Regions from separate parts of the Homo sapiens genome. Here region 2 is linked to region 1. The links come from fine-mapping of genetic effects on gene expression. A gene starts in region 1. The other region holds a variant in brackets. All regions are shown on one strand. Distances are between the middles of the regions. Region 1 holds the start of FAM131A (family with sequence similarity 131 member A). Region 2 holds the start of EIF4G1 (eukaryotic translation initiation factor 4 gamma 1).

Region 1 (12,449 bases):
GTGTGCCCCCACGGCGTGGCACAGGGCTGAAATGCTTTGCTTACCTTGCCTCATGTAGTCCTCACAAATGTTGTTTAGGGTGGATGGTATTACCCCTATTTTCCACATGAGGAGACTGAGGTCTCAGTGAACATGTCTCAGGTTATGCATTCAGAACATAGGTATGTGTCAGGGCATTGGCATGCTCACAGAGAGGAAGCCGAGCAATTTCCTGTGCTGGCCTGGAGTTAGTACTGGCGTGAGCAATGAGCCTGGGAAGACGGGTGCTCTCGGAGGGAGGACACCTGGTCTGAGGGGTAATGAGTGGTAATTCACTCCACAACAACTGGGAAGGGGAGGGGGAGAATGTTTGAAGCGAAGGCACTATGTGTGTTCTTTCTACCTATGGTAGGAAGAACTTGACACAGGGAAAAGAACTATTAAAGAAAGGCCAGTGTGGGAGAGCACAGCAACCAGTCCTAAGTGAGGCAAGATGGGGCCGAAGAGAGGGATGTGGGCCTGACCACACAGGGCCGGGTGTAAGCCATGGCCAGAGTCTGGGGCTTTAGCCTGGGGGCAAGAAAACGCCTTTGTGGGATTTTAAGCAAGGAATAAAGGAATTTGATTTTAGTTTTTAGATCATCTTGGCAATAGAGGGAAGAGTGGTTTGGAATGGGGTGAGAGTGGATGTGGCAGTGTTAGCACCAGTGGCTCAGCCTTGCTGGTGATGGTGGAGAGGAGTAGGCAGATCAAGAGATACTTAGGAAATGGAGTTGGCAGCTTTTGGTTACACTGGTCTGGGGAGGGGGCCGTGAGAGATTAGAAGTCATGGATGACTCCCAGGATGGTTTTTAAATCACAGTGGGCTTAGAGGCCATAGTGTGATGTCATTTGCTGGGGTAGGCAACGGTGGATCAAGTTGAGTTGTGGTCCTTGAGTAAGGGAATCGAGATGTCAGCTCAATAGCTGGGGTATCTGGGTCCTTTTGGAAAAGAAGAGATCAGGGCAGGAGGCAGCTTTGTGAAATGCCGGCACAGGGTAACTCATGTGCAAGTCATAAGAGGATACGGGCTTGCCTGAGGGAGAGTGATAAGGGCCTGAGATACAGCCCCAAGGAGGTAGAGCGGACATACTGGTAGGGACCAAAGGAGGACAGGCCCCTCTGAACCAAGGACAGAGAAATTTGAGGAGAGGGATGTGGTTGATAATGCCAGATGCTGCTGTGAGCGTTTGTAGGAGTGGGCCTGAAAATGCAGGATGTTTGGAATATAAAAACATAGAGGCCACCCTGGCAAAAACAGTATTTAGTGGGGCAGGGGACAGATTCTGGATTGGAAAGGACTGAGAAATACTTAAGTGAGACAGAAAGAAGGGAAAACATCAAGTGTAGACAAAATATTTTATTAGCTGTAAGATAGTGGTTGAAAACAGGGCTTTTTGTTTTTAGGTTAGAGAAACTTGGGCTTGAAAATACAGGGCAGAGTGCATAATCGATTGGATGGGGTCCCTGGGTGGGTATGTGTGGGATTTGGAGTGTAGGTACGGGTTAAGTGAAGGTTCTGCCCTGCTATGGCCCATTGCTATGGGGTGGGGGTAGCAGGTGACTGTGCCCCTAGGCAGTTTGTGACTTTGAGGCTGGGCATGCCCTGCAGAACATCCTGGCTGGCAGCATCTCATAGATGGCTTAGAAGTGTAAGGTTTGGTTTGGAAAGACTGGTGGTGCCTTGTGGGCACTGGGGTCGGTTGTGTTTCAGGGGTTATAGGACACGTTGCTTGGGAAGGCTACCCAGCAGCTAGGGGTTGAGGAGAAAGAGGGCCCGAACAGGTGATGCTTGAGTTGAGTCCTGAAGGAACAAGACACGAGGAAGTTTCCGGCAAAGGATATAGCATCCACAAAAGTGTCAAGGCCAGAGAAGGTGTGTATGTACAGGAAATGTGTGGGGAAGGAAGGGAAATTGAGATCAGGAGTTGTCAGGATCTGTTTGGGGGGCAGTGAATGTTCAGGTTACATGTAGGATATATATAGGACTTTATGTATGATATATATAGGACTTTTAGCGATTTCCTGAATTCAGGAGTACCAATTCTGAATATAGTTTTCTCCATTAAATACATCATGGGCAGAGAGGTTTCAGGCTGCCAAGGTGAGGCCAAGCAAGTTTGTAAGGTTTTTCTGATGGCCAAGTGACTCATTGCTGTGCAGCAGTCTCAGATCATGAGATTAGCATCCTGTCAGAGGCCTAGTCACTCTGGAATGGCCACAAATGTCAGGCTGGTGCATCAGGGCCTTGTTTGAACAGTGGAACTTGGGAGGGTTCCCTGGGGTGGGCTGGGGTGGCGGTGGCCAGTCACCTCTAACTGCTGTCCCGCCTGCTTGCAGACCTGCTGCGGATGTTCTTTGACGCACTGTATGACGAGGACGTGGTGAAGGAGGATGCCTTCTACAGTTGGGAGAGTAGCAAGGACCCCGCTGAGCAGCAGGGCAAGGGTGTGGCCCTTAAATCTGTCACAGCCTTCTTCAAGTGGCTCCGTGAAGCAGAGGAGGAGTCTGACCACAACTGAGGGCTGGTGGGGCCGGGGACCTGGAGCCCCATGGACACACAGATGGCCCGGCTAGCCGCCTGGACTGCAGGGGGGCGGCAGCAGCGGCGGTGGCAGTGGGTGCCTGTAGTGTGATGTGTCTGAACTAATAAAGTGGCTGAAGAGGCAGGATGGCTTGGGGCTGCCTGGGCCCCCCTCCAGGATGCCGCCAGGTGTCCCTCTCCTCCCCCTGGGGCACAGAGATATATTATATATAAAGTCTTGAAATTTGGTGTGTCTTGGGGTGGGGAGGGGCACCAACGCCTGCCCCTGGGGTCCTTTTTTTTATTTTCTGAAAATCACTCTCGGGACTGCCGTCCTCGCTGCTGGGGGCATATGCCCCAGCCCCTGTACCACCCCTGCTGTTGCCTGGGCAGGGGGAAGGGGGGGCACGGTGCCTGTAATTATTAAACATGAATTCAATTAAGCTCACTGCCTTTCTGCTTTATGCCCTGCTCCCTCTAGAGAAGGTGTTTATAGGTGGGGATCCTTCCCAGAGCTGGTACTGTAGCGCTGTTCCCTGTAACCTGGCACCCCTCCTGCCTCTTCCCCTGTCCATGATTGCAGGGATCTGAGGTTTCCTGGAAGGTTGGGCCCTCAGATGGGCTTGATAGGTGCCTTCCTGGTCCGGAGAAAAGGGAGATTAGTGATAGGACATCCTTGCTAGGCTCTGCTCTCCTACCAGAATGATTCAAGCCCCTGTGTGGGGAAGGCTTTTGGGTTTCGGGTTGTTTATAGCTGGAGAATCCCTTTATGGCTTGAAGGTGTCATCTGTAAAATGAAGGGGCTGGATGCATGAAGGGAGGTTTTGCGACCCCGTGTAGTGTGACTGGGCTGGCTTAGTGAGTGTTCGCCGCCCCTGCCTTCAGGTGGCAGTCGGCTCTGGGAGGAGAGGACCGGCATTTTCGAACCCGGTCCAGGCCGCCTCTGCGTGGCTGTGACGTCGCTGCGCCCCGCCTACTTTGGGTGGTGACGCGGCGGTCACGCCCCCGCGCTTACGTCACCGGCCCGGTTCCCTCTCCGGGGAGCGGCGGCGGACGCGCGGCTCCCACCCCTCCCCTCTCACGGGCTCTCCCCTCCCCAGTGTGGCCGCGACCCTACCCTCTGCAAGGCGATGGCCCGCGCCCCGAGCGCAGGCTAGCGTGCCTGGGTGCCCGGCCATGGGCTGTATCGGCTCTCGGAGCCCGGCGGGTCAGGGTAAGAGGCGGAGGCCGGGTACGGGTTGGGGAGTCGGGCTGCGGCCGCCGGTGCGCGGGCCGCGGGTGGGTGGGGGCCTTGAGGAGGGGGCCGGTGTCGGGAGAGGGAGGAGCCTGCACCGGGAGGCGGGCCAGGCAACAGGAGGGAGCGGGAATGAGCAGGGAAGGGGCCAGACCGACTCCGGTTCGCTCCCACGGCCTGCCTGCCTTGGGGTTTTGCAGGGCAGACGCATGGTCTCGCCGCTGGCTGCCGTGTGCCCACTGCTCAGGGTGGCCGGAGACGCACAGCCCCGGGAGGGGCTGGGCAGCCCGATGCCCCCACCACTCCAGCCCTCGGCGACTGGCCTTGCGCGCCCACACACACACTCCCCTCCGCCTACACCTCTGCCTTCACAGTCCTGGGAGTGGCCCTGTGCTGGGAACCTGCTTCTCCCAGCCGTGTCCCCATCTTCTTAAAGAGGTAGCCTTTCGGTCCTGGCTAAGCACCCTACCACAGAATTTTTGTCGGACATTGACTCCCCTCTTCAGTCAGTCGGCGAAGGGGGACTGAGGTCCCGTTTGGGGCACCTGTGAACACTGAATCACCTCTCACCTATTACAGTTGTTTTAATGTCCTGCCCCCACTCAGCAAAAACAAATCACTCTACTCTGTGGAGGGAAAGAGGAACCCAGAGGCAGGCCATCAGGGCTTCCTTCCCACAGTGCTGACCCCTGCCTGGGCCTCGGTTTCCGTGGGTGGCCATGCACACCGGGCCTGGCCGTAGTCCTGTGCATCAGAGGTCGGCCAGCTTCCTTTACTCCGGTGTGGTGGATTTCTCCACGCATAAGGCAAGGCAGGACTGGGTTTGGGATGGGTCCTGGACCTTCAGGGCAGGTGGTCAGTCACACAGGCCTTGGTGTGGTTGGTACTTGATGTTCTTTGGAGCTAAGACTGGCTGAGATTTGTACTTCCCTTGAGGAATTCTGGGATTTGTAGTCCTAAGTTAACCTCGTGGCTTTTGAAGCTGAGGAGCAGCTGACTGCTCTGATCTCTCTGGCCCTATCAAGGCTTGGAGTTCAGGAAGTCATCACCTTCTCTTGTCAGGGGTGAGTTTGGCTGACCTCAGGACTGGCCTCGAGAGCCCTGGTTAGGTACCAGTTGGGGGCCAGGGATGGCCTGTAACCTCCTGTTTTCCTTCTGGTTGGTAGCATTTCTGGGGACCAACAGCTGGCCGAGGCTCAGGGATAGAGACGGCTGCTCCAGCTAAAGGTCAGTTGTGATGTACATTGCCTGTTGGCACTGTCTAGGGAATGGGCCTCAGCTCCCCGAGTCCCAGAGAGCTTGGCTGAGCCCTGGTGTTCCCACCTCCTCAGAGCCATGAGGCAGGAATGTTCTCCTTATGTGACTAGGCACAGGTTCCAAATGGGGAGGGGACTGGCTCAGCATCCGGAGCCAAAACAGGAATAGAACTGGGAGCTGAGCCTGGAGCGGTTCTGGGCTTTTGGTTCTCTGCATCAACACAGCCAGCATGCCTATGATTTCTGTGCTGGGCAAAATGTTTCTGTGGCAGCGTGAAGGGCCTGGAGGACGATGGACTTGTCAGACAAGTCGCAGAGGTGAGACCAGGGATCATGGATGTGATCTGGGAGATGATGGGAAGCTGAGCAGTAGGGTGCTTAGGTGGAAAAGGAAAATTACTCTGGCTTAGATATTAAGAACCAGGCTGAAACAGGGAGAACCAGGCTGGGGCCAGACAGGGCATCAGGAAACGGCTTCAGGGGACAGGGGTGAAAATCAGAAAAAATATCATGAGTTCGTCAGAAAAGAAGAGTAAAGAGCTGTGGACCAGCTGAGGCTGGCGAGAGGAAAGAAGGCAGCAGGAAGAGAGAAGGAAGGCAACCCTCCTGCAAAGGGTCCAGGGTGGCGGTGGTGGGGGGGACAGTGATGGCGGAAGAACTCAGTGTGCTTTCCAAGAGGAATGGGTAGGCTGGGAAACGGGAAGGAGAGTCAGAATTTATCATTGTTTGGTTTCACCCTAGGGTTTTGAGGCAAAATTTATCCAGAGCAGGAAGGTGGCAAGTGGGCTGCCACAGAATGGCCCCAGGGGCCCGAGGGTCAGTGATGTGTGGGATGGGGGCTTTTAGAGTTGAGGAGAGCACTCAGTGGGCGCTGGTCTTCTGGAAGGTGGGGGAGGGGCCGAGAAATGATACGGCAATACTGGATGAAAATGGGGATCTCTGCAGAAGTAGGGGCACAGCTCAACAGCCTTTCCCCTTCCTCTCAGTGTCCTCGGACCCCGCTTGGGCTGTGGAGTGGATCGAACTTCCTCGGGGTCTCTCTCTATCCTCTTTGGGATCTGCTCGAACCCTCCGAGGCTGGAGCAGGTCCTCCCGCCCTTCCTCGGTGGACAGTCAGGACTTGCCAGAGGTGCTGGGCCCCTGGTGGTGGGGGGAAGGAGGACGTCATCCATATAAAGGGGATCTGCAGCCCCCACCCACGCCTGGCCAGCCAGCTTCTGGCTCCCTTTTCCGGCGGGCGGAGGCGCTATCCGGCGGCGGGCCGGGAGGCCGCCCCCGTGCCGGTCTGCTCTGCTCGGCGCTGTGCCAGCAGGCGGAGAGCTCGCGCCTTCCGCGCTGACGTCAGCGCATCCCGGGCCGTATCCCGGGAGACCCTGTTGCGTGGTGATGGGTTGCCAGGGAGACATACACCTTTTCTCTGGGCCTGGGCCGCAGCTGCGCGGAGCGCCGGGCACGGATGGCGGCGGCTGAGGGGAGCGAAGCGAGGGAGGGAGAGCAAGCTAAGAAACACCCAGCAGGTGCTCCCCCGCCTAGGCCTGGCTGGAGGCTACTGGCGCCACCCTGGGGGCCCTGTCAGCCAGGTACCCAAGGGGAGGGATCGAGGGTGGGCCTCAGGTCAAGGGGCAGTGTTGGCTGCCCTTGTGAGGGACGGGAACGTGATAGAAGAGAGCTGGGCAATGCCGGGGAGGGATGTGTGCCTCCAACTTCATTAAGTGAGGGAAACATTTGCTGGGGCTTGTCAGGGAGCCCTGAGCCAGGTACAGGGTGGAGTTAGGAACTTACGTGCATCAGACTTAGGCCTTGCCATCCTGAGCTCCCTCGGGAGACAGACAAGGGCAATGATGGGGGCGGGGTGTGTCAGAGAAAAGAAGAGGCTGTCGGCTGAAAGCATTATTTGCAGGTGACACTTGAGATGGGCCTTAAGTGATGGCAAGCATTTTTTCACGTAAGGATGGCATTCTTGGCCCAGAGGAAAGCTGAGTTCCTTTTCCTGGAGGCAGGCGGGCTGCTTGCTGACAGGGATTGGTGGAGAAGGGTTTTTGTTTTTTGTTATTTATTTTTATGTATTTATTTATTTGAGACGGAGTTTCGCTCTTGTTGCCCAGGCTGGAATGCAATGGTGCGATCTCGGCTCACCGCAGCCTCTGCCTCTGGGGTTCAAGCGATTATCCTGCCTCAGCCTCCAGAGTAGCTGGGATTACAGGCATGCGCTGCCACGCCCGGCTGATTTTGTATTTTTAGTAGAGGCGGGGTTTCACCATGTTGGCCAGGCTGGTCTCCAACTCCCGACCTCAGGTGATCCGCCTGCTTCGGCCTCCCAAAATGCTGGGATTACAGGCGTGAGCCACTGCGCCCGGCCTGAGAAGGGGGGTTTTATTGGGCAGAGGAGATCAGCAGTGGATTCAAAGGAGGCTTGGAAGGAGGCAAGGGTGTCACAGAGTGGGATCCTTCAGGGCCTGGGTATGATGCCTGCACTAACCTCACTGGACAGTAGCGTAGGCTAGACAAGATTTTAGAGATGTGTTGTGACCAGCTGCACTCCAGGAAAACTGTTTACATTATATCTTACCTCATTCATCCAGCCTTTGCATTTTTGTTTGCTTGTTTTTGAGACAGAGTCTTTTTCTGTCGCCCAGGCTGGAGTGCAGTGGCACAATCTTGGCTCACTGCAATCTCCGCCTCCTGGGTTCAAGCAATTCTCCTGCCTCAGCCTCCTGAGTAGCTGGGATAACAGGCACCCGCCACCATGCCCTGCCCATTTTTTAAATTATTTTTAGTGGAGATGGGGTTTCACCATGTTGGCCTGGCTGGTCTCAAACTCCTGACCTCAGATGATCTACCCACCTTGGCCCCTTGGCCTCCCAAAGTGCTGGAATTACAGGCGTGAGCCACCACGCCTGGCCCAGCCTATGCATTTTTTTTTTTTTTTTTTTTTTTTGAGATGGAGTCTTGCACCGTAGCCTAAGCTGGAGTGCAGTGGTGCGATCTCGGCTCACCGCAACCTCCGCCTCCCGGGTCCTGGTTCAAGCAATTTTCTTGCCTCAGCCTCCTGAGTAGCTGGGATTACAGGAACGTGCCACCATGCCCAGCTAATTTTTGTATTTTTAGTAGAGACGGGGTTTCACCATGTTGGCCAGGCTGGTCTTGAACTCGTGACCTCATGATCCGCTCACCTCGGCCTCCCAAAGTGCTGGGATTACAGGCATGAGCCACTGACGCCTGGCCAGCCTATGCATTTTTAAGAAATTATTCTGTATTAGGTGCTGTGCTAAACATTGGGCACTACAGTGACCAAAACAGACTGAATTCCCCAAGAGCCAAAGACCAGTGAGGGAGACCAACAAGAAACAGGAAATGCAAAAGAGACCATTATTACTCACTATGACTAAGGGCCACAAATGGGGTACGTTGATGGAGAGTGATTTGTTAAGAGACTACAGAGGGAGGACAGACTACCAAGAGGGGGGCCAGGAAAGCTCCTCTGACGAGGTGGTATTTCAGCCCAAACTGGAAGAATGAGAAAGAGCTAGCCAGCCATCAGAATAGTCCAGAAGAGATGGGGAGCACTACACTCACTACACTTTGGCCTGAGAAAATAGCATGGGATTGGAGGAGGCTGGGGGAACACCACTTCTGCCGACCTGGGCAGGAGGCATTGAGGGCTTGAGAAAGGGCAATGGCAGTAGCAGTAGAAAGGACAGGGTAGGAGCAGGGACTTTGCAGGTGGAATCATTAGGTCTTATCAACAGATATGGGCAAGCAAAGCCAGGGGAGAATTGATGGTAATGCTGAGGTTTGGAGCCAGGCTAGATGGGACAGTGGTGGGTGATGCAAAGGAAAGAGGTCAGGAAGCAGGGCCAGACGTGGGGAGAAGGTGTGGGGGTTTGGTTTCCATCTTGCCGAGTCTGCCGGAATGTGGATGGGAAGACCAAGAGGAGGAGCAAGGGGCAGAGGGGAAGGGAATCTTAAAGAAGTCCTGGATGCCACACTCTTCTTCCTTCCTCCTCTTCCCTCTCCTCAGAGGTCTCACTCGTGGTTCTTCATTTCCTGCCCTGCCTCCATCTCCTCTGGGTGCTGGGAAAGTGGAGGATTAGCTGAAGTTTTGCTTCTCGGGGCCTGTCTGAATCTCCATTGCTTTCTGGGAGGACATAATTCACCTGTCCTAGCTTCTTATCATCTTACATTTCCCTGTAGCCACTGGGACATATGTGGTGTTCCTTCCTAGCTCCTGTCTCCTCCTCATGCCTTTGCTGGGTATGGGCATGTTAGGGGGAAGGTCATTGCTGTCAGAGGGGCACTGACTTTCTAATGGTGTTACCCAAGGTGAATGTTGGAGACACAGTCGCGATGCTGCCCAAGTCCCGGCGAGCCCTAACTATCCAGGAGATCGCTGCGCTGGCCAGGTCCTCCCTGCATGGTATGCAGCCCCTCCCATGTTTCTGGCCACTTTGTCCTTTCTCCTCCCGTTTGCACATCCCTTTGGAACTGTTTCCTGTGAGTACATGCTGGGGTCTCCCCTTTCTTCCCTTGCTCAGGTGAATCTCAGCCCCTTCTCCCACCCAAAGGTTCACATGGATCCTAACTACTGCCACCCTTCCACCTCCCTGCACCTGTGCTCCCTGGCCTGGTCCTTTACCAGGCTTCTCCACCCTCCCCTATCTCCAGGTATTTCCCAGGTGGTGAAGGACCACGTGACCAAGCCTACCGCCATGGCCCAGGGCCGAGTGGCTCACCTCATTGAGTGGAAGGGCTGGAGCAAGCCGAGTGACTCACCTGCTGCCCTGGAATCAGCCTTTTCCTCCTATTCAGACCTCAGCGAGGGCGAACAAGAGGCTCGCTTTGCAGCAGGTGGATGGCAGAAAGGGGATAAGCTACACTCTTGGCACAGGGCTGCTTTCTTTCTTTATTTTATTTAATTTTTTTTTGAGACGGAGTCTCACTCTGTCGCCCAGGCTGGAGTGCAGTGATGCAATCTCAGCTCACTGCAACCTCTGCCACCCCAGTTCAAGCGATTCTCCTGCCTCAGCCTCCCAAGTAGCTGGGATTACAGTTGCCTGCCACCGTGCCTGGCTAATTTTTGTAGTTTTAGTAGAGATGGGGTTTCACCGTCTAGGCCAGGCTGGTCTTGAACTCCTGACCTAGTGATCCACCTGCCTCGGCCTCCCAAAGTGCTGGGATTACAGGCATAAGCCACCACACCCGGCCAGGGCTGCTTTCTTATCTCCTCGGGTCTGACATGGGGGTTGGAGTCTTCCCATACCCTGTTTCTCCTCTCTCCTGTCTTCAAGCTGAGCCCTAGACTTAGCTCACCTTCTCTGCTTATGCATTCTGTCCCTGCGACAGGAGTGGCTGAGCAGTTTGCCATCGCGGAAGCCAAGCTCCGAGCATGGTCTTCGGTGGATGGCGAGGACTCCACTGATGACTCCTATGATGAGGACTTTGCTGGGGGAATGGACACAGGTGAGGGACATCCTGGGCTAGGGCTGTGGTGGACCCACCTGATAGACCTTGGCATTCTTTCAGAGCCACATCCAGAACACTCTCAGCCTTTGCAAGGGGAGGGAGAGGGACAGACTCAGTCCAGGCAGGCCTGGACACTCCAGGGACAGGAAGGCTGTCCACACTCATGGGTGGGAAATGAGCAGACAGAAATGGATTCGTTCCTTTCCCACAGGTGCTGAGGCTTCTCTGCCTGTCTGCACAGTTGTGCCTTGCAGTCCTCAAAAAAAAAAAAAAAAAAAAAGCCGAAAGACCTCAAGGACACCTTCTGTGCAGCCATGTCTCTGGGAGGGTCTGCAGTGCCTTTGCCTCTTCCTCTCCGAGGCAGCCTTCTGGCTGGCTGTGGCAGGGCAGATGAGCTGCAGTGCACAGCCCAGCACCTCGCAGGGCTGCAGCCCAGGTCAACAGGAAGGCATGCTGGGCCTGGAACACCCACGGGGCCATGCTGGCTCCAACTCAGCATCCTTGCATTCCAGCCCGTGGGCCTTTCTCTGGGCCAGTGCTTGCAGAGGGGACCCTGCAGGGCTCTGCAGCTGTGTTCGGCCCTCCTTTCATCTTTCATTCCCTAGACCACATGGCTGACTTTCTCTGTAGCTTCTGGGCTCAAGTCTCACAGGCCACCATTCCCCACAACCTCTTTGCCTTTGAAGATTACCTCTACCATCCCATACCCCTCCAGTGAATTAACAAGTTCTCCAAAGCAGGCAATACATGAGAGCAGGTTGGAGACTGCTGCTGTGGTCTGGAGGGCTGATTTGGTTGTCTGAAGCCAAGATGGAACCTTAAACCACAAGCATTTTTGTTTGATTGAGTTCCAGGCCTACTTTGACCCCTGGGGTAATGATAATAACTAACATTTATCCAAGGCTGCTACTAGCCTGTGTGGAATCTTTGTGCAAATTAGAAAAAGGCACCCCTTTCTCTGGCAGGCACAGCCTTTCTCTGGCAGGCCAGGGCATGCTGCTTGGTGAGCAGAGTATGGGTTAGATTTTGCTATTTCTCACTGCCTTGGACAGGCCCTGTTGTGCGATGAGCAACCTGTATGGCCATAGGCGGTGACCCTGCATTTACTGCTTGTTAACTGTGTGCCAGACTTTTTTTTTGAGACGGAGTTTCACTCTTGTTGCCCAAGCTGGAGTGCAATGGCACGATCTCGGCTCACTGCAACCTCCGCCTCCCAGGTTCAAGTGATTCTCCTGCCTCAGCCTCCCGAGTAGCTGGGATTATAGGGATGTGCCACCACGCCCGGCTAATTTTGTGTTTTTAGTAGAGACAGGGTTTCTCCATGTTGGTCAGGCTGGTCTCGAACTCCTGACCTCAGGTGATCCACCTGCCTCGGCCTCCCAAAGTGCTGGGATTACAGGCGTGAGCCACCGCACCCACCTGTGTGCGAGACTCTTGTTCTTGTATTGTTAGAATCTCCAACTCACCATTAAGGACACTGAGGTCTCAAAAAGTTGTGACTGGTTCAAGGTTACCCAGCACCTATCCACCCCTAGAGCTATGCCAGGGGTGGAGTGGGGTGAATGTGGCTTCCAGGTTGTCCAGTTGAAATGGAGCCAGCAGGACTGTCTTCTTTTCTCTTCTCCTCACAGACATGGCTGGGCAGCTGCCCCTGGGGCCGCACCTCCAGGACCTGTTCACCGGCCACCGGTTCTCCCGGCCTGTGCGCCAGGGCTCCGTGGAGCCTGAGAGCGACTGCTCACAGACCGTGTCCCCAGACACCCTGTGCTCTAGTCTGTGCAGCCTGGAGGATGGGTTGTTGGGCTCCCCGGCCCGGCTGGCCTCCCAGCTGCTGGGCGATGAGCTGCTTCTCGCCAAACTGCCCCCCAGCCGGGAAAGTGCCTTCCGCAGCCTGGGCCCACTGGAGGCCCAGGACTCACTCTACAACTCGCCCCTCACAGAGTCCTGCCTTTC
Region 2 (12,133 bases), 26 kb before region 1:
AAGAGATAAGCATATAGGGGAGGCTGGGTTTGGTTTTTGCTTTAGGGCCTCTCTGGGTATTGCCATGTATTGAAATAGCGTGTGACTGGGTTCTGTATGTAAGGGGTAAAGGTGTTCCCCACAGGATGGCTTTTTATTTTCAGATGGGACTTGAGTCAAGGGTGACTGTTTTTTATTCCTTGAGCTTAATGGGTTCTGCTCTCTCTTCAATTGCAGGGAGTGGCTGTTCTGGGGATTGCCCTTATTGCTATGGGGGAGGAGATTGGTGCAGAGATGGCATTACGAACCTTTGGCCACTTGGTGAGTATAGCATGAAGAAAATTGGAATATACTGGTTTTGATGGCCTGGGGTTCCCCAGGGAAGATTTTTCTGATGGGTTTTCTTGGTGGAGAGCTGGTCTTTTTGCTGTGCCTTTTCTTTCTTTTTTCTTTTCTTTTTTGAAGCGGAGTTTTGCTCTAGAGTGCAATGGCACGGTCTTGGCCCACTGCAACCTCTGCCTCCCGGGTTCAGGTGATTCTCCTGCCTCAGCCTCACAAGTAGCTGGGACTACAGGCACATGCCACCATGCCCAGCTAATTTTTGTATTTTTAGTAGAGACAGGGTTTTACCATGTTGGCTAGGATGGTCTCTATCTCTTGACCTCATGATCCACCTGCCTCGGCCTCCCAAAGTGCTGGGATTACAGGCATGAGCCACCATGCCCAGCCTGCTGTGCCTTTTCTACAGAAGTTAAGGCCCCCTTTTACCCATCAGTCCACTCCTGTAATGGAATTTGTTTTTACTGCATTCCGCCTTACTGTTGTATTTTCTTGGATCATCAGCTGAGATATGGGGAGCCTACACTCCGGAGGGCTGTACCTTTAGCACTGGCCCTCATCTCTGTTTCAAATCCACGACTCAACATCCTGGATACCCTAAGCAAATTCTCTCATGATGCTGATCCAGAAGTTTCCTATAACTCCATTTTTGCCATGGGCATGGTGGGCAGTGGTGAGTATCCGGCAGAAGAAGGTCATAAACAGATTGGGGGAAGATTTGAAGCCCCTTTTTTCACTTCTGTAATGCTTAACATTTCCAGGTACCAATAATGCCCGTCTGGCTGCAATGCTGCGCCAGTTAGCTCAATATCATGCCAAGGACCCAAACAACCTCTTCATGGTGCGCTTGGCACAGGTAAAGAATAGAACTCCTCCACAGAGCGTGCCGGGGAAGTATCTGTGGTGATGGAAGGAGGAACATGGAGTGTTGGCCCAGGAGGAAAGATGTGACCAAGTGGGAGATTTCTGTTTGGCTGGGTTAGGCGATGTCTCCTCAGTGGTAACTCCTCACCTCTACTTCCCTCTGTTTTTTTCAGGGCCTGACACATTTAGGGAAGGGCACCCTTACCCTCTGCCCCTACCACAGCGACCGGCAGCTTATGAGCCAGGTGGCCGTGGCTGGACTGCTCACTGTGCTTGTCTCTTTCCTGGATGTTCGAAACAGTGAGTTCCTGTCAGAAATTTTATATCATAGCATGCAGGGCTCTGACTCCACCCTTTCCAGGGCCACTTTGATAATTTAGGTTCAAGACCCCAGTTTAGCTCTGTATCGCTCTAGGTTTCTGAGACAGGCTTTGGGCCTGTGACATGAGACTTTCATCACCCACACTTTTGATCTGGCCCAAAGAGATTTGAGGGTGATGTGCCCAGCGTCTGCTCCTAAGTCACTGGGGAAATGCGATTTTCAAGTCTAAGGGCTGTAAGCAAAGTGAGGTGGGGGCGTCTCTGGTTCGTAGTAGGGTGTATGAGGGGAGGAGTGTGGATTCAGTCGTATGACTGACGGGTTAAAGGGTCAGCGCTGAGGTGGGCTCTCAATGTTTCTGGCCAGGCCTGTCTTTTTGTCTCTTAACTTTTTGTCCTGTCTGCTTCCCTCAGTTATTCTAGGCAAATCACACTATGTATTGTATGGGCTGGTGGCTGCCATGCAGCCCCGAATGCTGGTTACGTTTGATGAGGAGCTGCGGCCATTGCCAGTGTCTGTCCGTGTGGGCCAGGTGAGAGGCTGAGTAGAGGGGAGGGCTCAGGCTGTATTCTCAAACTGGAGAATGTACATATACTTGCTTTGCTGAAACTGGCGTGGGCGGTGGCTTGTCGCTACTTTTCCATCTCTCTTTTCAATTTTCTTACCCTACAGGCAGTGGATGTGGTGGGCCAGGCTGGCAAGCCGAAGACTATCACAGGGTTCCAGACGCATACAACCCCAGTGTTGTTGGCCCACGGGGAACGGGCAGAATTGGCCACTGAGGAGTTTCTTCCTGTTACCCCCATTCTGGAAGGTTTTGTTATCCTTCGGAAGAACCCCAATTATGATCTCTAAGTGACCACCAGGGGCTCTGAACTGCAGCTGATGTTATCAGCAGGCCATGCATCCTGCTGCCAAGGGTGGACACGGCTGCAGACTTCTGGGGGAATTGTCGCCTCCTGCTCTTTTGTTACTGAGTGAGATAAGGTTGTTCAATAAAGACTTTTATCCCCAAGGTCTCTCTGTGTCTGTTTTCTGGGGTGTCATGGCTGGAGTCTAAACTAGAGTAAGGAGTGGAAGTGAGAGGGCATTGTTAGGAGCAACGCTGAGTTTAGGTTAGCAGCACTGCCCTGGATGGAAAGAACTGAGCCCCTTCCCTCCCCTGGGTGGAAAAAACTAAGCCCCTCCTTTCTAATCATCTTCTCTTTGCATTTTCTTAGAACCCTTGAGAAGCCAATAAATGTAATGGATCTTCTTTTTGTTTTGTTTTGTTTTGTTTGAGACAGAGTCTTGCTGTCTCCCCCAGGCTGGAGTGCAGTGAGGCAGTCTCGGCTCACTGCAACGCCTGCCTTCCGGGTTCACGCCATTCTCCTGCCTCAGCCTCCCAAGTAGCTGGGACTACAGGTGCCTGCCACCACGCCCGGCTAATTTTTGTTTTTTGTTTTTGTTTTTTTGAGATGGAGTCTCGCTGTGTCATCCAGGCTGGAGTGCAGTGGTGCGATCTTGGCTCACTGCAAGCTCCACCTCCCGGGTTCACGCCATTCTCCTACCTCAGCCTCCCGAGTAGCTGGGATTACAGGCACCTGCCACCACGCCTGGCTAATTTTTCATATTTTTAGTAGAGACGGGGTTTCACCATGTTAGCCAGGATGGTCTCGATCTCCTGACCTTGTGATCCGCCTGCCTCAACCTCCCAAAGTGCTGGGATTATAGGCGTGAGCCACCGCACCCGGCAAATTTTTGTATTTTTAATAGACGGGGTTTCACCATGTTGGCCAGGATGGTCTCGAACTCCTGACCTCAGATGATCCACCTGCCTCGGCCTCCCAAAGTGCTGGGATTACAGGTGTGAGCCACCGTGCCCAGCCAATGGATATTCTTCCTAGGAGACGCAAATACACAAATTTTTACACAAACTCTTCCAAATAACTTCAGGGGGCTTGTGGATCCTGTAAATAACCCCCCACACTCACCCTCCACCACCAATACACCCTCTTCAAGCCTATCATCTTCTGACCTTGGGCTAAGGATGCCCAAGAGTGGGCAGCCTCATACTTTTCTAACTTGACTTACGTGCTACTGAATGAAAAGGACATCTTTACCTCCCGCAACCATCTGTCCCTCTTGGGAGGCTGCTATGAGGAATTTGATCATGTTAACATCTACTTCTAGGATGTCCTTGTAGAAAGTGGATTCAAGAAGGCTTGACCCTCAGCCTCCCAAGCAGGTAAGGTAGGGCTACAGGTGTGTACCACCACTTCTGGCTTTTTTTTTTTTTTTTTGAAATGGTCTCACTCTTATCACTCAGTCTGGAGTGCAGTGGCACAGTCATAGCTCACTGTAGCCTCAAACTCCTGGACTCAAGTGATCCTCCTGACTCAGCCTCCCAAGTAGTAACTAGGACTATAGGCATGACCCACCACAGCTGGCCTACTTTTATTTTTGTGGAGGTGGGGGTTTTGCTGTGTTGCCCACGCTGGTCTCAATCTCTTGGCCTCAAGGGATCCTTCCACCTCAGCTCCCAAAGTGCTGGGATCACAGGCATGAGCCAGTATGCCTGGCTATTTATTTATTTATTTATTTTGAGACAGAGTCGTGCTCTGTTGCCCAGGCTGGAGTGCAGTGGCGTGATCTCGGCTCACTCTGCGTCTGGGGTTCAAGAGACTGTCTGCCTCAGCCTCCTGAGTAGCTGGGACTACAGGCATGCGCCACCATGCTCTGCTAATTTTTGTATTTTTAGTAGAGACGGGGTTTCACCATGTTGGCCAGGATGGTCTCGATCTGACCTTGTGATCCACCTGCCTCGGCCTCCCAAAGTGCTGGGATTACAGGTGTAAGCCACCACACCTGGCCCAGTTATTTTATTACTAAATTTTTTTAGAGACAAAGTCTCACTTTGTGGCCCAGGCTGGAGTGCAGTGGCATGATCATGGCTCACTGCAGCCTTGAACTTCTAGGCTTAAGTGATTCTCCCACATCAGCCTCTCAGGTAGCTGGGATTACAGGCATGAGACATCAGCAATTTTGGATTGAGTCATCTTGGCAGCCTGTATAAAAAGGTTGAAACAGGATTAAGGAATCCCTGTTGAGCCCCTTTATGGTTCCTGCCATAATCTTCAAGTTAGCATGTGTGATGTGATGAGCCTCTGTTATTATATAATGTGGATATAGTAGTTGCCTTACCTGATTTCCAGTGGTGGTGATGTTAGAATAAAAAGTGATTTGTAAACTAAAAAGAATGATTCTCTCCCAAATTGTGATTTAGGTGATTGTGCTTTAGAATAAGACAGTTTCATAGTGGCTTTTAACCTTTCACCTTTAGTTCTTCATTCATCAGTGAATAGCAGTGGAGCCTTACTCTGCATCAGACATTCGTCTAATTTATGGGGATGCAAATACAGAAAAAAACCCCTATGCTCAAAAAGTTTAATGAAATGATGAAAACAACTGTGATCGATACTTACCAGGGTGTGAACAAGGTACCCTGGTATCACTGAGATGGGGCCTAAGTGCCTGGGGCAATCGGGGGACTTTGAGGAAGCTTATATCCTTAGAGGAAGATAAGTTTGTACAGAGGAAAAGAGGGCAGAATATAGCTAAGGGAGTAGCAAAGGCAAGAAGGAGGAAAAGCTGTTTTCAGAAACTTACAGATAATTTGGTTTGGCTAAATGTATAGGGGCCAGGGAAAAGGGTGGTAGGAGATACAGCTGGAAATTCAGGCTCAGACTAGGTTTACAAGAGCTTTGTTGTGCTAAGAATTTGACAGTATCTTTCAATGGGGCCCACTGAATGAGAGCAGAAAAGTGACATGATCAGCTATCTGGGTGAGAAAGCTAACCCTGGAGGACAGGAGAGCAGGCAAGGAAAATGAATGCTTGAACTAAGGCAGTTGAAATGGGGACATAGGGAAGGGTAGAATAGTTATTTTTTAAAAGATAAGATCAATAGGACTTGATTTTGATCCAAATACCAGTAAGACCTGGTGTCTGATTAGATGTAGTGTGTGGATGGAGAAGGAATATAGGATGAATCCCAGATTTTCAGGTTAGGCACTATCTATTACGTAAGCAACAATATATTTGGGGGACTTGATTGAGTAGGGAAAGTTAACAAATTCTGGCCAGGTAATAAGTATCAGAGTTTGGATGAAAACTCAAGCAATCTGACCTGTGGATTTGGCTGTAGATGATGGTCCCTTCTGGCCTCTGTCAGCTTTTTCTTTTTTTTTTTGAGACGGAGTTTCGCTCATGTTGCCCAGGCTGGAGTGCAATGGCAGGATCTCAGCTCACCGCAAGCTCCACCTCCCGGGTTCAAGCAATTCTCCTGCCTCAGCCTCCTGAGTAGCTGCGATTATAGGCATGCGCAACCATGCCTGGCTAATTTTTGTATATTTTTAGTAGAGACGGGGTTTCTCTATGTTGGTCAGGCTGGTCTCAAACTCCCGATCTCAGGTGATCCGCCTGCCTCAGCCTCCCAAAATACTGGGATTACAGGCGTGAGCCACCGCCCCCGACCGGCTGTCAGTTTTAAGATTACTTCTCTTCTGTCCTTATTCTTCCATCCTTACGCTTTTGCCCCTCCGTGGGAGTGTCTGCTCTTTTTATATTTTATTTCATTTATTTATTTATTTATTTGAAACAGAGTCTCACTCTGTTGCCCAGGCTGGAATGCAGTTGTGATCTCAGGTCACTGCAGCCTCCAACTCCCAGGTTCAAGCGATTCTCCTGCCTTAGCCTCTCCACTAGCTGGGACTACAGGTGCTTGCCACCACATCTGGCTGATTTTTCTATTTATAGTAGAGATGAGGTTTCACCATGTTGGCCAGGGTGCTCTCGAACTCCTGACTTCAGGTGATCTGCCTGCCTTGGCCTCCCAAAGTGCTGGAATTACAGGCGTGAGCCACCGTGCCTGCCTTTATTTTTTATTTTTATTTTTATTTTTTGAGACAGAGTCTCACTGTCATCCAGGCTAGAGTGCAGTGGCGCAATCTTGGCTCACTGCAAGCTCTGCCTCCCGGGTTCAAGCAGTTTTCTGCCTCTGCCTCCTGAGTGGCTGGGACTACAGGCGCACGCCACCAGACCCGTCTAATTTTTTGTATTTTAGTAGAGATGGGGGTTTCACCATGTTGGCCAGGATGGTGACCCCGTGATCCGCCCTGACCCCGTGATCCGCCCGCCTCGGCCTTCCAAAGTGCTGGGATTACAGGCGTGAACCACCGCGCCCGGCCCATGATCCTTTTAAACGACAAATCTCATACTACTTGCCTAGTTAGAATGTTTCTAACTTTTTAAACGACAAATCTCATACTACTTGCCTAGTTAGAATGTTTCTATCCTTTTAATTTCCTTTGTTATAGGCCTTTCAAGGACCTAATCTAAATTCTTTTCAAAGCCTGCATAATTCGTGTTGTATCACGATTTACTTAGGCAGGACTGAGTCTTTAATTTCTTTTTTTCTTTCTTTTTTTTTTTTTTTGAGATGGAGTCTCACCCTGTCGCCAGGCTAGAGTGCAGTGGCGTAATTTCGGCTCACTGCAACCTCCGCCTCCCGGGTTCAAGCAATTCTCTGCCTCTGCCTACCGAGTAGCTAGGACTACAGGCGTGCGCCACCAGGCCCAGCTAATTTTTTGTATTTTAGTAGAGACGGGGTTTCACCATGTTGGCCAGGATGGTCTAGATCTCCTGACCCCGTGATCCGCCCGCCTCGGCCTCCCAAAGTGCTGGGATTACAGGCGTGAGCCACTGCGCCCGGCCCATGATCTTTTTAAACTACAAATCTCATACTACTTGCCTAATTAGAATGTTTCTATCCTTTTAATTTCCTTTGTTATTGGCCTTTCAATGACCTAATCTAAATTATTTTCAAAGCCTGCATAATTCGTATTGTATCACGATTTACTTAGGCAGGACGGAGTCTTTAATTTCTTTCTTTTTTTTTTTTGAGATGGAGTCTCGCCCTGTCGCCAGGCTAGGCTAGAGTGCAGTGGCACAATCTCCGCTCACTGCAACCTCTGCCTCCCGGGCTCAAACAATTCTCCTGCCTCAGCCTCCCAAGTAGCTGGGACTACGGGTGCGCCACCACGCCCGGCTAATTTTTGTATTTTTAGTAAAGACGGGGTTTCACCATGTTGGCCAGGATGGTCTCGATCTCTTGACCTCGTGATCCGCCCACCTCGGCCTCCCAAAGTACTGGGATTAAGGTGTGAGCCACCGCGCCCCGCTTATTTTTTTTTTTTTTTTGCCGAGACTTTGATTTCAGTTTCTCAGCCCTCAACCAGCACTTCGCCTTGTACTTAGCATGCACTCAATAAATGGTTGCTTAAAATATGAATGAACTAAAGAATCGCGGAACAGAGAGAAACACAGAGGGGAATCGGTCTGGGAGTTTCAAAGTTCGGGAGGGGACACGGGGGCGGGCTGTGGCTGTCACGTGACGGGGCGGGGGCAAATCCCATGTGCTCGGCGGCGCAGATCGCCCGGCGCGGCTCCGCCCCCTGCGCCGGTCACGTGGGGGCGCCGGCTGCGCCTGCGGAGAAGCGGTGGCCGCCGAGCGGGATCTGTGCGG[G/A]GAGCCGGAAATGGTTGTGGACTACGTCTGTGCGGCTGCGTGGGGCTCGGCCGCGCGGACTGAAGGAGACTGAAGGTAAAGCCGCCATGTCCGGGCCCGACCCGGCCCCCCCACCCCCTCCCCCCGCATCCGCCGCCATCCGGGCCGGGACCGGCCACCCTGCGCCGCCGCCCCGGCGCCCTGGCCCCGCGGCCCGACCCAGGGCCCCGGCCCGCCAGGGTCCCGATCCCCGGCCCACGTGTGCCTGGCCCGGCCGGGCCTGGCTGCTGGGTGGGGGTGGGGAGCGCAGGGCCGGACTATGCGGGCCCCGCGGGCTGGTAGGGCGCCGGGTTCGTCGCCGCGAAATGCCACCTCGGCCTGACCCGAGGAGGCCCGGCAGCCCACGGGCGCAGGCACCACGGCTCCCGGCCCGCCGCCCCCTCCCCCCTTCGCGGCCAGGCCGCCGGGAAGTGACACGTTGTTCTTTGGCACTGGCCCGCGCTGCGCAGGGAGGGCGCAGGGGAGGGAGGCGGTGGCGGCGGGCAGGGAGGAGCCCCCGGCCCCGCCCGCCCTCCGGGCCGACCCTCACTTGCCTGAAACCGGCTCCTCGACGGCCGCCGCCCGCCTGGCCTTTTAGGGCCTGACTCCCGCCCTTCCTGGCCTACACTCCTGGGCGGCGGCAGGCCTAGCTTCTGGCCCAGTGCGGGTTCCCCGGCGGCAGGCGTATCCTGTGTGCCCCTGGGCCAGGCCCGAACCCGGTGTCCCCGGGTGGGGGGTGGGGACGCCACGGCCGAAGCAGCTAGCTCCGTTCGTGATCCGGGAGCCTGGTGCCAGCGAGACCTGGAATTTCCGGTCTGGTTGGTCTGGGGCCCCGCGGAGCCAGGTTGATACCCTCACCTCCCAACCCCAGGCCCTCGGATGCCCAGAACCTGTAGGCCGCACCGTGGACTTGTTCTTAATCGAGGGGGTGAGTGAGGGGTCTGTTTCAGTAGGTCAGGGGTTGGTTGGAAGTGATGCGGGTTTGACAGCATGTTGGTGGGGACAGGCTGTATCTTTTCTGCTTCACCCTCTTGGCATCTCTGGGACTCCGTATGGGACCCAGCCCTTGCATCAACCCTTTCACCGCCCCATTTGCCTTAAGCTTGGGTCCCTTCCTCTTCCTGAGCGCCACTCTTTCCCAACAGGTGCTGGGGGGACCCTGATGTGGCACCAAATGAAATGAACAAAGCTCCACAGTCCACAGGCCCCCCACCCGCCCCATCCCCCGGACTCCCACAGGTAATTAGGGAGGAATTAGCAGGGGTGGGGGTGGGGGAGACCAGGCAGTCTCCAGCCTCTGGATCTTCCTACCCCCATCTGTGTCAGGGCAAAGTGCAGCCGCCTGCTGCCAAATTGAGACAGGGCCCCTGGGCTGTCCCCGGGGGCTGTCACGGGGAGGGGGTATGTGGATTGTTAAGGCTCTTGCCGCAGATCTGCTCCCCTTATTTCACCAGCTTGGGTTTCTGCCCCACCTGGGCTTCCCCTCTTGCTGAACTCTGGTCTCCCCTCTTCAGCCAGCGTTTCCCCCGGGGCAGACAGCGCCGGTGGTGTTCAGTACGCCACAAGCGACACAAATGAACACGCCTTCTCAGCCCCGCCAGGTGAGGGGCTGTGGGGAGGGGAGTAGGGGACCTGGGTGGGAGCAGTGGAAAGCTTTGGCCAGTTTAGGTCTAGGATGGAAACTGGAGGCCCCATACCTGGCCTTAATCCTCTGTGTTCTTTCATGCGGCTCTGCGCCTTGCCCTGTTGATTACTCACGGTGGCTGGTCCCTTGGATAGTATGTTGTCAATGAGGGTGGCATTACTGGGATCCTAGTGCCTCTGAGAATTGGGGGCAGTGCTTTGGGCCCTGCTGCCAGCTCTTGCTTTCCTATTTGCTCCTTTTACCGGAGGCTGCTATTGCTCTATTGCTCTCTCTGCTTTCTCTTTGGACTGTGGTGAGGTAAACACTCCAGCTGGTCCTTGCCTTTCTCTGTTCCCCAGCTTCTTCCTTACTAAGTGGGAGGATTCTTGTCCTGTCTTATTGCCTTCATTCCCTCCCCCCGCCATCACCTTGGGGGTAATTCTCTTCTTTCCTATCCCCATGTGCTCTCAGGGAGGATTCAGGTCTCTGCAGGTAATATCCCTTTCCCAACCCTGGACAGTCTTCTGGTCTCATCCTTACCCTCCACCCTAGTCAGGGGCTAGACACAGGGAATGGGGATCTTCAGGGTAGTGACTTGTTTGGTGTCCAGGTTCTCAGTTGGAGGCCGAGTGATGCATGTTAGGGGCTACATCTTGAAGAACGCGCATCTGGGGACTGGGATGCTGTTGCATGTTATGGTTAGCTCCTCATTACATGCTGGTGGAGCAGTGCATGCTGGGGATATGTTGCCCGAAAGGGCCTTACTTAGGCATGATGCATCTCGGTGTTAGGAAGCCTCTGCAGAGGGGTAGTTTGGTAGAGGTGACGTGTGTATGCATGGCAGTGAGAGAGTAAATCTCTGCAGGATGCAAAGTGTACATCTGAATTTGGAGGTTTGGAGGGCATGTGTGTGTACAAGAAGCCGCTTAGCCATTTGGTCAAGTGGTCTTGGAAGGATTGGTCGCCATGTTCTGAAGCCCACAGTACTTCTTTCCAGGCTATAGAGACATTGTGGAGTGGCAATTTTTTGTCCACTTCCTTCTCTTTACAATGCCAACTGCTTTCCTCCCTCCTGACAGCACTTCTACCCTAGCCGGGCCCAGCCCCCGAGCAGTGCAGCCTCCCGAGTGCAGAGTGCAGCCCCTGCCCGCCCTGGCCCAGCTGCCCATGTCTACCCTGCTGGATCCCAAGTAATGATGATCCCTTCCCAGATCTCCTACCCAGCCTCCCAGGGGGCCTACTACATCCCTGGACAGGTGAGGCTGGGGGCTTGGAGCCTAGAAGCCACAGACCCCTATACCTCTCACTTAACTCACCCTGACCCTCCAGTTCCATTGCTTTTCCAGAGGTGGGACTTCCTTCTGGTCATTGCCCAGAGTTGGCTTGTCTTGTCTTGACCTATGTTCTTTTTGGAGTCTGATATGGAACTCATAGCTCCCTCAACTCCTTCTCTCCCTCTCCCCCTTCCCCACCAGGGGCGTTCCACATACGTTGTCCCGACACAGCAGTACCCTGTGCAGCCAGGAGCCCCAGGCTTCTATCCAGGTGCAAGCCCTACAGAATTTGGGACCTACGGTAAGCAGGGGAGGGAGTCAGAGGTGAGAACAAGCCCAAGGGAGCATCTAAACTCATCTGCTGATTTCTAAAGCAGAAGACCCTTCCCAGGCTTGGCTTCTGGTCTAAAAATGATAAGGTTAATAGGTGGTAGGGATTGGTGCTTAATATTTAACTGGTGTTGATTGTGGGGAGAAAATTTGATTTTATTGCCAGGAGAGTTAAGAGTCTTTCCCACATCAGGGAATGTAGGATCAGGCACCAGCCTGAGAGCCTATTAGTAGGCTTTCCCTGTGACACTTCTTCCATGGTTGGGAGCCCATGTAATGCAAATTTGGGAGGTTTTTGTAGCTATTTTTTATTTATGTTCTAGGGAAGGATTAGTCTGTTCTTTATGGCAGTGGCTTCCAAGTTTTTTGATCACCTATCAGGAAAAGTTTTGAGTATGAATCTCTCATACATGTATGTTTTTGTTTATATGTATGCAAAATTTAAACAAATACACTTGTGCTTGTCAAAAACAAGTGGAATTTAGGGATGAAATTAAAGAATGTGCCCGGATCTTGCTTGTAATCCCAGCACTTTGGGAGTCAGGAGGACTGCTTAAGGCCAGGAGTTTGAGACCAGCCTGGGAAACTTAGTGAGACCCTGTCTCTATTTTAAAATTTGAGGGGGGCTGAGCACGGTGGCTCACGCCTGTAGTCCCAGCACTTTGGGAGGCCAAGACAGGCGGATCACTTGAGGTCAGGTGTTCGAGACCAGCCTGGCCAACATAGTGAAGCTCCGTCTCTACTAAATTTTATTGTTATTATTTTAATTTTCTTTTTGAGACGGAGTCTCGCTCTGTCACCCAGGCTGGAATGTAGTCGCAC

The links. PIP is the estimated chance that this variant, and not a neighbour inherited with it, causes the effect.
Region 2: its variant is fine-mapped to the expression of FAM131A in whole blood (TOPMed, PIP 0.99).

The regions. Positions count from the first base shown.
Region 1 is chr3:184,332,368-184,344,816 of GRCh38, forward strand. It overlaps FAM131A (family with sequence similarity 131 member A), which reads left to right and starts at 5,233. Exons shown (of 6, transcript NM_144635.5): 1 at 5,233-5,351; 2 at 6,020-6,162; 3 at 9,357-9,450; 4 at 9,699-9,881; 5 at 10,377-10,493; 6 at 12,128-12,449. The coding sequence starts at 5,264. It overlaps EIF4G1 (eukaryotic translation initiation factor 4 gamma 1), which reads left to right. Exons shown (of 33, transcript NM_198241.3): 33 at 2,360-2,986. The coding sequence ends at 2,541. RefSeq lists enhancers at 2,317-2,466, 5,775-6,386, 8,478-8,557, 11,729-12,449 and silencers at 3,437-3,866, 3,783-3,983, 3,907-3,976.
Region 2 is chr3:184,306,535-184,318,667 of GRCh38, forward strand. It overlaps EIF4G1 (eukaryotic translation initiation factor 4 gamma 1), which reads left to right and starts at 8,072. Exons shown (of 33, transcript NM_198241.3): 1 at 8,072-8,140; 2 at 8,955-9,011; 3 at 9,229-9,322; 4 at 9,598-9,684; 5 at 10,787-10,963; 6 at 11,183-11,282. The coding sequence starts at 9,263. PSMD2 (proteasome 26S subunit ubiquitin receptor, non-ATPase 2) reads left to right here. Exons shown (of 21, transcript NM_002808.5): 16 at 217-300; 17 at 823-991; 18 at 1,080-1,174; 19 at 1,356-1,482; 20 at 1,915-2,033; 21 at 2,174-2,516. The coding sequence ends at 2,356. RefSeq lists enhancers at 7,495-7,995, 8,720-9,341 and silencers at 7,823-8,152, 8,173-8,882. The variant G/A (reference allele first, on the strand shown) is at 8,066.